3 linked regions of the Homo sapiens genome follow. The protein of the gene in region 2 purifies or fractionates together with the protein of the main gene of each other region. This does not show direct contact. Each region holds a gene or a part of one and is shown on either strand. Other genes may lie near its edges.

The links.
Region 1: the proteins of PPM1D (region 2) and GPI purify together in Homo sapiens (affinity purification with mass spectrometry; one large-scale study listed by BioGRID and IntAct). This does not show direct contact.
Region 3: the proteins of PPM1D (region 2) and TMOD3 purify together in Homo sapiens (affinity purification with mass spectrometry; one large-scale study listed by BioGRID and IntAct). This does not show direct contact.

The regions. Positions count from the first base shown.
Region 1 is NC_000019.10:34,368,131-34,371,783, forward strand, and holds part of GPI (glucose-6-phosphate isomerase), read left to right. Parts: intron 1-452; coding exon 453-572; intron 573-3,653. UniProt on the Homo sapiens protein: In the cytoplasm, catalyzes the conversion of glucose-6-phosphate to fructose-6-phosphate, the second step in glycolysis, and the reverse reaction during gluconeogenesis.
Region 2 is NC_000017.11:60,620,572-60,624,224, forward strand, and holds part of PPM1D (protein phosphatase 1D), read left to right. Parts: intron 1-2,949; coding exon 2,950-3,178; intron 3,179-3,653. UniProt on the Homo sapiens protein: Involved in the negative regulation of p53 expression. Required for the relief of p53-dependent checkpoint mediated cell cycle arrest.
Region 3 is NC_000015.10:51,899,063-51,902,715, forward strand, and holds part of TMOD3 (tropomodulin-3), read left to right. Parts: intron 1-1,092; coding exon 1,093-1,236; intron 1,237-2,829; coding exon 2,830-2,974; intron 2,975-3,653. UniProt on the Homo sapiens protein: Blocks the elongation and depolymerization of the actin filaments at the pointed end. The Tmod/TM complex contributes to the formation of the short actin protofilament, which in turn defines the geometry of the membrane skeleton.

The sequences.
Region 1 (3,653 bases), on a different chromosome or scaffold from region 2:
GGCTGGTCTCGAATTCATGACCTCAAGTTATCCACCTGCCATGGCCTCCCAGAGTTCCGGGATTACAGGCGTGAGCCATGGCGCCCGGCCTCTGAAAGCATTTATTGCTTGTTTCTGACATGTATTGTTGCCATTCTCTGCCTTTGCTCACTGTTCCTCTTTTCTCTCACTGTTCATGCCCTGAGCATCTCTGGCAGGCCTTCGGGGCCTGTCCTAGGCATATATGGGTCCCCTCCTCTCCTCCTGACTGTCTGCAGCACATAAGTCCTTGGGGAGCTCCTACTCCTCTAAGCATACAGTGGGTTCTTGGAACAAGGTTATGGTGCTAACAGAGACCTCAGGGCCTGCCTGTCTAGTGGATAGAGGGCCGAGCTATGGCACCATGCCCAGCTGGGAGCATGGCTGCCTGGGGTTGGGGGGGGCAGTCTTTATATCCTGACCGTAATCCCCAGGGTCGAGCCGTGCTGCACGTGGCTCTGCGGAACCGGTCAAACACACCCATCCTGGTAGACGGCAAGGATGTGATGCCAGAGGTCAACAAGGTTCTGGACAAGATGAAGTCTTTCTGCCAGGTAAGTGGCTACTGGGCCGGACTCACCCTTGGCCGTGTGTGTGAGTTATTTGGGAATCTGGGAGCCCTAAGGGGCAGCTCTTCCCTCTTCTTGTAGGCAGGACTCAGGTTCTCACTGCAGCTTAAGGGAGGGGTTGCCTGTGTGATCGCTGACCCTGGAGTCTCTGCTGAGGCCTGAATTTCTCCTGGCTCTGCTCTGAAGGAATCTGCTGCTGGCAGAAGTGGGGCCAGTTTCTTTCCTGAATTGTAGACACCTATGGACTCATGGTGACAAACCACAGAGGCTTCAAATGAAAAGTGGGGCCCCTGAGAGACAGGACAGTCAGGAAAGGAAGGAGCTTTTTCTTTTTTCTTTTTTTTTTTTTGAGATGGAGTCTCACTCTCTCGCCCAGAGTGGACTGCAGTCGTGCTATCTCAGCTCACTGCAACTTCCGCCTCCTGGATTCAAGCTATTCTCCTACCTCAGCCTCCCGAGTAGCTGGAATTACAATTATGCGCCACCCTGCTCAGCTAATTTTTGTATTTTTAGTAGAGACGGGATTTCACCATGTTGGCCAGGCTGGTCTCAAACCCCTGACCTCAGGTGATCTGCCTGCCTCACCTGGGATTACAGGCATGAGCCACTGCGCCTGGCCGGAAGGAGCTTTTTCTAATCTCTTTTGTCATACGCCCTTATCACCCAGTCTAGAAACAGATAAAACATTGTAAAATTTCCTCAACCCTGGCTGGGCGCGATGGCTCATGCCTGTGATTCCTGAACTTTGAGAGGCCGGGGTGGGTGGATCACTTGAGGTAAGGAGTTCGAGACCAGCCTGGCCATCATGGTGAAACCCCATCTCCACTAAAAATACAAAAATTAGCCAGTTTTGGTGACATACGCCTGCAATCCCAGCTACTTGGGAGACTGAGGCAGGAGAATCGCTTGAACCCGTGCGGCAGAGGTTGCAGTGAGCTGCGATTGCGCCACTGCACTCCAGCCTGGGCGACAGAGGGAGACTCTGTCAAAAAAAAAAAAAAATTTCCTCATCCCCATTCCCAGCTAACCCTCCAGAAGCAGCCTTTGTAAAGTTTCCTGTAGCCAGGCGCAGCAGCTCATACCTCTATTCCCAACTATTCAGGAGGCTGAGGTGGGAGGATGGCTTGAGCCTGGGAAGTTGAGGCTGCAGTGAGCCATGGTGACACCACTGCACTGCAGCCTGGGCGACAGCAAGATCGTGTCTCTAAATAAATTTAAAAAATAGAAAAGTTTTCCTGTGAAGTCTTCCAGAAAGTTCCTGTGCACATACACATCTGTCATCTCCTCTTTGAAACACGTACACATGTGCACATGCACACAGGTTGGTTTTCTCCCTGCTCCTCTGAAGCTTATTTCCACCTGGAAGTATGTAAGCAGTGTCCGTGTGTCAGTGACAGTGCATGTAACATGCCTTCTTTTCCTTGTGTGTAGGGTGGTAGGGGTTGCCTCAGAGACCAGCTAAGTTTCCCCACATCAAGCACTTGCCTCAGTGTCTACCCTAGCGGTGATTCTGCAGGGGTGGGTTGGCAGACATCCTCACGTCTGGAGAACGAGGGTGATGCCGGTGTGCCTGTGTGGGCTGTGCATGCTACGAGGGTGATCGTCCAAACTCTTGTCAGCTGTGATCATTTGCTGCTTGTCCTAGGAGCAGTGGCCTCCATGTGTGGCTGGTCAGAGTCCAGTTACTTTGGCCAAGAGCCACTTTCAGACCTGAAAATGGGCTGGGTGCAGTGGCTCACGCCTGTAATCCCAGCACTCTGGGAGGCTGAGGCAGGTGGATCATGTGAGGTCGGGAGTTTGAGATCAGCCTGATCAACATGGTGAAACGCCGTCTGTACTAAAAATACAAAAAAATTACCTGGGCGGGCATGGTGGCGAGCACCTGTAATATCAGCTACTGGGGAGGCTGAGGCAGGAGAATCTCTTGAACCCGGGAGGCAGAGGTTGCAGTGAGCCAAGATCACGCTACTGCACTCCAGCCTGGGTGACAGAGTGAGGCTCTGTCTCAAAAAAAAAAAACCAACAAAAAAACCAACCCATCTCTGGAAAAAATAAATAAATCAGCTAGGTGTGGTGGTGTATCCCAGCTACTTGGGAGGCTGGGGTGGGAGGATTGCTTGAGCCCGGGAGGTTGAGTCTGTACTGAGCTGAGATTGTGCCACTGTCCTCCAGCTCAGGTGACAGAGTGAGACGCCTCCAGGGCAAGGAAGTTGTGGGGTCCTGATGGGAATCTGGATTTCCTGAATGTCACTTAGGGTGATCAGTCCATGTGATGGTCTTTGGGTGTGTGGCGGGGCCTTTCCAGCCATCTGCTGTGAGTGGCAGAGCTGAAGTGCATTAAAAGCCTAGTGCTGTGTGATCAGTCTGGGTGTGCTCAGCCATGCCACATGGCGAGGATGGCACTGCACCGTCTGGGGTGCTGTTTCCAGGAAAGCCTTCCCTTAAAGCTGGCCACTGGAGTACCTGACTCAGGCTGATAAGGTATTTATAGTTCAAAAAAAGTTGCTGAATGGCAGTAATCCCCTGGTGAGGAACATTCCCCATGGCTGTGCTCTCCAAAGTTTGCCAAGATTGGGTGAAGACGTTCACTGTGACCTTGATTGTAGTGGCAAAACCTGAAACCAAGCTGTACTCATTTGTCAGGGGACTTACAAAGTAGAGTCAGCACATATTCATATACTGTCATCCTGGGCACCAATAGGGATTAGGGAGCTATAGTTGGATTGATCTGCCATGCTGTTCAGGATGGACTGGGAAGTTGAAAAAGGAAGTTGCAGAATTGGTGGGTATGGTAAAGACTCATTTGGTCAAATGAAGGCTGGGTGTAATTGTAATAAAGATAGACACATTTGGCTTGGTGCAGTGGCTCACACCTGTAATCCCAGCACCTTGGGAGGCCGAGGTGGGTGGATCACGAGGTCAGGAGTTCAAGACAAGCCTGGCCAACATAATGAAACCCCATCTCTACTAAAAAAAAATACAAAAAAGTTAGCCTGGCATGGTGGTGCATGCCTGTAGTCCCAGCTACTCGGGAGGCTGAGGCAGGAGAATCACTTGAACCCCAGA
Region 2 (3,653 bases):
GCTGGAGTGCAGTGGCGTGATCTCAGCTCGCTGCAATCTCTGCCTCCTGAGGTTAGGATCCCTCCTGAGCTGGGATTACAGGTGTGCGCTACCATGCCTGGCTAATTTTTGTATTTTTAGTAGAGACAGGCTTTCACCATGTTGGTCAGGCTGGTCTAGAACTCCTGACCTCATGGTCCACCCACTTTGGCTTTCCAAAGTGCTGGGATTACAGGCATGAGCCACTGCACCCAGCCTGTTGCCATTTCTTTTGGTGGTCATATTAAAAAAGTAATTGCCAAGACCAACGTCGAGATTTTTCCTTATGTTTTTTTTCTAGGAGTTTTGTGCTTTTTGTTTTTCTTTTCTTTTCTTTCTTTCTTTTTTTTTGAGGCAGATTCTCGCTCTGTTGCCCAGGCTGGAGTGCAGCGGCACGATCTTGGCTCACTGCAACCTCCACCTCCAAGGTTCAAGCGATTTGCCTGCCTCAGCTGCCTGAGTAGCTGGGATTACAGGCGCACACCACCACATCTGGCTAATTTTTATATTTTCAGTAGAGATGGGGTTTCATCATGTTGGCCAGGTTGGTCTCGAACTCCTGACCTCAGGTAATCCACCCACCTTGGCCTCCCAAAGTGCTGGGATTACATGTGTGAGCCACCGCATCCGGCCTGAGTTATGCTTTCAATGTATTTCTTACATTTCAGTTTTTAATCACTTTCCAGTTAATTTTTGTGTATGGTATAAGACAAGGGTACAATTTCATTCTTTTGCATGTGGATATCCAGGTTTTCCAGTGCCATTTATTGAAGACTATCCCTACCTCAGAGTTTTGTTTGTTTGTTTGTTTGTTTGTTGTTTTGAGACAGGATCTCACTCTGTTGGCCAGGCTGGAGTGCAGTGGCACCATCTCCACTCACTGCAGCCTCCACCTCCTGGGTTCAAGTGATTCTCCCACCTCAGCCTCCTGAGTAGCTGGGACTACAGGCACACATGCCTGGCTATTTTTTGTATTTTTTTTTTTTTTTTTTTTTGAGACGGAGTCTCGCTCTGTCGCCCAGGCCAGACTGCGGACTGCAGTGGCGCAATCTCGGCTCACTGCAAGCTCCGCCTCCCGGGTTCACGCCATTCTCTTGCCTCAGCCTCCAGAGTAGCTGGGACTACGGGCACCTGCCACCACGCCCAGCTAATTTTTTGTATTTTTAGTAGAAACGGGGTTTCACCATAGTCAGGATGGTCTCGATCTCCTGACCTCGTGATCCGCCCACTTTGGCCTCCTAAAGTGCTGAGATTATAGGCGTGAGCCACCACTCCCAGCGTGTTAAGAGTTATCTCAAAAAAAAAAAAAAATTATCGGCCAGGCGTGGTGGCTCACGCCTGTAATCCCAACACTTTGGGAGGCCAAGGCGGGCAGATCACGAGGTCAGGAGATCGAGACCATCCTGGCTAACACAGTGAAACCCCGTCTCTACTAAAAAAATACAAAAAAATTAGTTGGGTGTGGTGGCAGGCGCCTGTAGTCCCAGCTATTTGGGAGGCTGAGGCAGAAGAATGGCGTGAACCTGGGAGGCGGAGCTTGCAGTGAGCCGAGATCATGCCACTGCTCTCCAGCCTGGACGACAGAGCGAGACTCTGTCTCAAAAAAAAAAAAAAGGAACACTCATTTACTGTCTTTATTACTGATTTTTCTTTTTGCTTATGTTGGATTACAAGTCTGCATTTTTATTTTTTTTCTTAACATAATTCTATTCCTTTAAACTTCCAGGAATTCTTCATCTTTGCCTATGACCTTTCTGTGTGTGTCTATATGTTGTGGATTTATTTCTAACATTTACATTCTGTCCTTTCAGTGGGATTTTGGTGGGGAGAATATGTCATTGTTTGGACTCATTTTGCCATCATGAACTATAAGTTGCAGTTTGTTTAGTGTTACATAATACTTCAGAATTGTTGAATGACAGTGAATTTAATTAAACAGTATAGGGTTTGTAATTTAATATACAGGGATTCTGCCCCTAAATATTTGAGTTATCTGAAGCAGGTTTCTTAATTATTCAAAGTATTGATATCCTTATCTGCAAAATGAGGAATAAGTAAATAAATAAAGGGAATAATCATATCTGTCTCATAAGTTCGTCACAAGCATTATTTGAGATAATACATGTAAAGCTCTTAGTATAGAACTTGGTATACAGTGAATATACTCAGTAAATGTAATTTGTTAAGTAGTGACTATTCAAAATAGTTATTTCAAAAACAAATCAAGCCGAGTGCGGTGGCTCATGCCCATGATCCCAGCACTTTGGGAGGCCGAAGCGGGTGGATCACCCAAGGTCAGGAGTTTGAGACCAGCCTGACCAACATGGCGAAACCCCATCTCTACTAAAAATACAAAAATTAGCTGGGGATGGTGGCAGGCGCCTGTAATACCAGCTACTCGAGAGGCTGAGTCAGGAGAATCACTTGAACCCAGGAGGCAGAGGTTGCACTCCAGCCTGGGTGACAGAGTAAGACTCAATCTAAAAAACAACAAAACAGAAAAACAAGTAGCTTTTTCAGAAAGCCTTTTAGAAGAGATATGAGTAAACAGATGCTAAGTGGCTGGCTAAATGATACCACAACTCTTGAATCAAAACTGATTCAGATTAAAAAAACCTCTTAACACATTCTTTCCTATCAATGTAGTTAGGACTAAGAGTCATGTAGCAGTAGTAAACCTGTCCTGTAATATATTTCTCTTAGGATTGGTTTGATAGTTGTATCATAATTGCATTATTTATAACATTAATTTATTAATGTATTCATTAATTAACCTAAGTCCTTTAGTAGTTTTCAGAATATTTTTCTTAAATTGTTTCCTGTGCTAATTCGAATGTTAACATGCTAATTCAGAGTTTGTTGCCATTTGTATCCTGACAGTGTATTAATGTTTATACTTGCAAGAGTGAAATATTTTATTTCTTATTACAGCGGAATGGCCAAAGACTATGACGGGTCTTCCTAGCACATCAGGGACAACTGCCAGTGTGGTCATCATTCGGGGCATGAAGATGTATGTAGCTCACGTAGGTGACTCAGGGGTGGTTCTTGGAATTCAGGATGACCCGAAGGATGACTTTGTCAGAGCTGTGGAGGTGACACAGGACCATAAGCCAGAACTTCCCAAGGAAAGAGAACGAATCGAAGGACTTGGTGGGAGGTAACATTCTGTCGTTTTCTCTTTCCTCTTTTGGTTCTATTTAGTCCTTTTATGCTTTACTAATGAAATTGACCTACTACTGTCCCTTTTACTGAAGTTACTTTCTTAGTATTACAGGTTTTTTAGTTTGTCTGATGTAATACTCATGTATGTATGTTCATATTTTTCTCATTACTATGAATTGACTTTTATTTCTGATAATGACTCTAATAGGAAATAATATTTCAGTGAGCCCCAAGGAAACAATTCAAGGTTTTACTGAAAACCTTTCAGATGACTTTCAGAATCTAGACGGAGCAGCTCTTGGAGTTCCAGAGTAGAACACTTTGAATCTGGCTGGGGGAAAAAGATTAAGTTAGAATTAACCTTCAGCTTTTTTCATTGATTTCAGATTTACTGCAAACCTTTCCAGTTATTGTTTTCTTTGTTTGAACTTAGCGTTTCAATGTGTAAGTAATTTGTAAACTAGGAACTG
Region 3 (3,653 bases), on a different chromosome or scaffold from region 2:
TGTGCTCTTCTGGTTCTGGTTATCTGTGTTCTTTTCTGGCCTTCTGCCTTGACCATTTCTTTTGGCCCCTGCCTTGGAAATTAGTACATAATTTACCCTCATTTTGGCTTCACATGATCCAGCTACAGCAAGACCCAAATAAGAAAAGATGTTACAGCGACATTGATGAAGTTGGTCTAACACAGAAACTGAAAGAGTGAGAGAGACAGAAGAAAGAAGCATGAAGTAGGGAATGAGGAGTAGAGAATGTCACCAACGGGGAATTACATGTGACCAAAAAATCAAAAGATTATGACTGGGTACATATGAAAAATAGGTACAGGCCAGGTGTAGTGGCTCACACCTGTAATCCCAGCACTTGGGGAAGCCGAGGTGGGTGGATTGCTTGAGCCCAGGAGTTTGAGACCAGCCTGGGCAACATGGTGAAACCCCATCTCTACAAAAAATACAAAAATTAGCCGGGCATGGTGGCACACAACTGTAGTCTCAGCTACTCAGGAAGCTGAGGTGGGAAGATCAATTGAGCCCAGGAGGCAGAGGTTGCAGTGAGCTGTGATCCTGCCACTGCACTCCAGCCTGGGTGACAGGGCAAGACCCTGTCTCAAAAAAAAAAAAAAGAAAGAAAAGTAGATACAGTCATCCATGGGTTCAACCAACTTCAGATCAAAAATATTTGGAAAAAAATTCTATGAATTTCCAAAAGCAAAATCTGAATTTGCTGTATGCCAGGTACTATGTTGAATCCACAAAAATGAAGTGATGTGTAGGCATTGTATTAGGTATATTAAGTAACCTAGAGGTAATGAAAAGTATACAGGAGCATGTGTGAAGGTTATATGCAAATACTATGCCATTTTCTATAAGGCACTTGAGCATCTGAAGATTTTGGTATCTGCAGATGGTCCTGGAACCAACCCCCAACAAATACTGAGGGACAACTGTACATGTGAGAGCTATGGGCTACTGTGTCAAACTGAAACAACTAATGACAAACATTAAGGCAGTTAATTAATGTATTTATTTATGGCATGTACAATATGTAGTAGGTACTGTATCAAATTTTAATCTCTTAATATTTTCTCTAATTTCTAGGCTTTTGCAGAAATGCTGAAAGTGAACAAAACTTTGAAGAGCTTAAATGTGGAGTCCAACTTTATCACGGGAGTTGGGATTCTGGCACTGATTGATGCGTTAAGAGATAATGAAACCCTGGCAGAGCTCAAGATTGACAATCAGGTCAATGTTCTACAATAATAACGTCGAGGAAGCTACAGCCCACGCTGCTGTGTAGGGCTTGGCGACTCAGGATGGGGATGGGAGGCGGGCTGTCAGGGATCCCTGTTGGAAGATGCTGGGCTGAAAGGAGAGCTGACATTTGGGGTATCTAGAATATTAACTCAGTGTATATAACAGTGTATACAATGTAAAGGTGTATACTCTCCCTAGATCATTTTAAGAGAATTTAGATGGCTATCTAGTTTGAACTGAGAGGACTCTTACATGTGACCTAGTCCACCTTCCAATTTTTCAGCTCTGTGCTGGCAAGGTCCACATTGTAGGGTTTTTGTAAAAGGCAGAGAGATACATGTTAGAAATGTTTCCATCCAGAGTAGCTATTAATTTTTTTATTTGAAAAAATAACTCCATTTATTTGAAAAAATATTTGTTAAATGTCTCCTTCAGTCCTTCAAAGTAAATACATTTTGTAAACTATGAAGGTGGAAAAGAGGATTATGTCTTAAAATTTAACCCAGTGCTTCATAATCCATGTTTTTCATTTTTTTATTGAGATATAATTACATACAGTAAAATTCATTTTCTTAAAGTATACAGCTAAATGGTTTTTAGTATATTTGTAGAGTTTTGCAGCCATTACCACTAATTCCAGAACATTTTCATTACCCCAAAAAGAAACCCCATACCCATTAGCAGTCACTCCCCATTCACCCCTCTCACCAGGCTCTGGCAATCACTCATCCACTTTCTGTTTCTTAGGATTTGCCTATTCTGGACAGCTTATATCTGTGGAATCAAACAATATTTGATCTTTTTGTGCCTGGCTTCTTTCACCTGGCATAATGTTCTGGAGGTTCATCTGTATTGTAGCATACATCAGGACCTCATTCTTTTATGACTGAATAATATTCTATTCCATTTGGGGTGTGTCCACATACGGGCCACTAGAAATAATGCTGCTGTGAACATTCATTACAAACTCTAACATGGACATAGATTTTCATTTCTCTTCAGTATATAGCTAGGAGTGTATTGCTGGGTCACATGGTAACTCTATGTTTAACTTTTTGAGCAGCAGCCAGTTTTCCACAGTAGCTGTACCATTTTACATTCCTCTCAGCAATGTCCCCATTTTTCCACATTCTTGCCAACACTTGTTATTATCTATCTTTTTTATTATACTTATCCTAGTGGGTATGAAGTGATATGTCATTATAGTAATTCACACTTTTTTGATGTCTATATGATCATATTACTGAACTTTAAAAAGTTTAGTGTGTGTGTGTGTGTGTGTGTGTGTGTGTGTGTGTGTGTATAAAGTTCCAGTGAGGCTGTGGTGATGATTGGGTCAATGGGTAAAATCCCCTTCCTGTGACAAACATTTCATAGCTTTAAGTGACCAGTTTTCTACAACAAACAATTTGTTCTCAGTTACAAATCAGTACTTGGAACTACTGAACTATGTATATGTTGTAGGAATTGGGAACATTTAAAGAGATCAAAGAATTAGCATGTGCCTGAATGTCTTAATTTACCTTGAAAAGTATTTTGATCTAGTTTATTAATATTGTTCTTTTTTTCTAATTACTCCAGAGGCAGCAGTTGGGGACAGCTGTAGAATTGGAAATGGCCAAGATGCTTGAGGAAAATACAAATATCCTTAAATTTGGATATCAGTTTACACAGCAGGGACCACGAACCAGAGCAGCTAATGCTATAACAAAAAACAATGACTTAGGTAAGACATAGTATCGATCAAGTTTCTGAGTTCTATCACAAGCTAACGTATTGGGGGAACTTCTTTCCCTCTTAAGAATAAATTCTAACAGAGAAGTTATTTGGCCTTTGTTTCTAAAATCTGCATGGTCCTTTATATACTGATTGAATTCAAGTTCAATTAAAGTGAGGTTGTGATGATTGGGTCAATGGGTAAAATCAGCTTCCTGTGACAAGCGTATTTCATAGTTTTAAGTGACCAGTTTTCTACAACAAACAATTTGTTCTCAGTTACAGATCAGTCCTTGGAACTATTGAAACAAAGATTTCAACATTATCGGAAAGTTTTTTGCCCTTTTAATCAAGCGGACCCAGATAGAAATTCAATTTTATATGATAGAATGTGGATATAGAAATATATAAAATAGAGAATAATTATATTTCTCACCCAGGTTTTTTGTTGTTGATTTTTTTTGAGACGGAGCCTCGCTGTGTTGCGAGGCAGGAGTGCAGTGGCGCCATCTCGGCACACTGCAACCTCCGCCTCCCAGGTTCAAGTGATTCTCCTCCCTCAGCCTCCCGAGTAGCTGGGACTACAGGCGTGCGCGCCGTGCCCAGCTAATTTTTGTATTTTTTTTTTTTTTTTTTTTTTTGAGACAGAGTCTTGCTCTGTCGCCCAGGCTGGAGTGCAGTGGCACGAT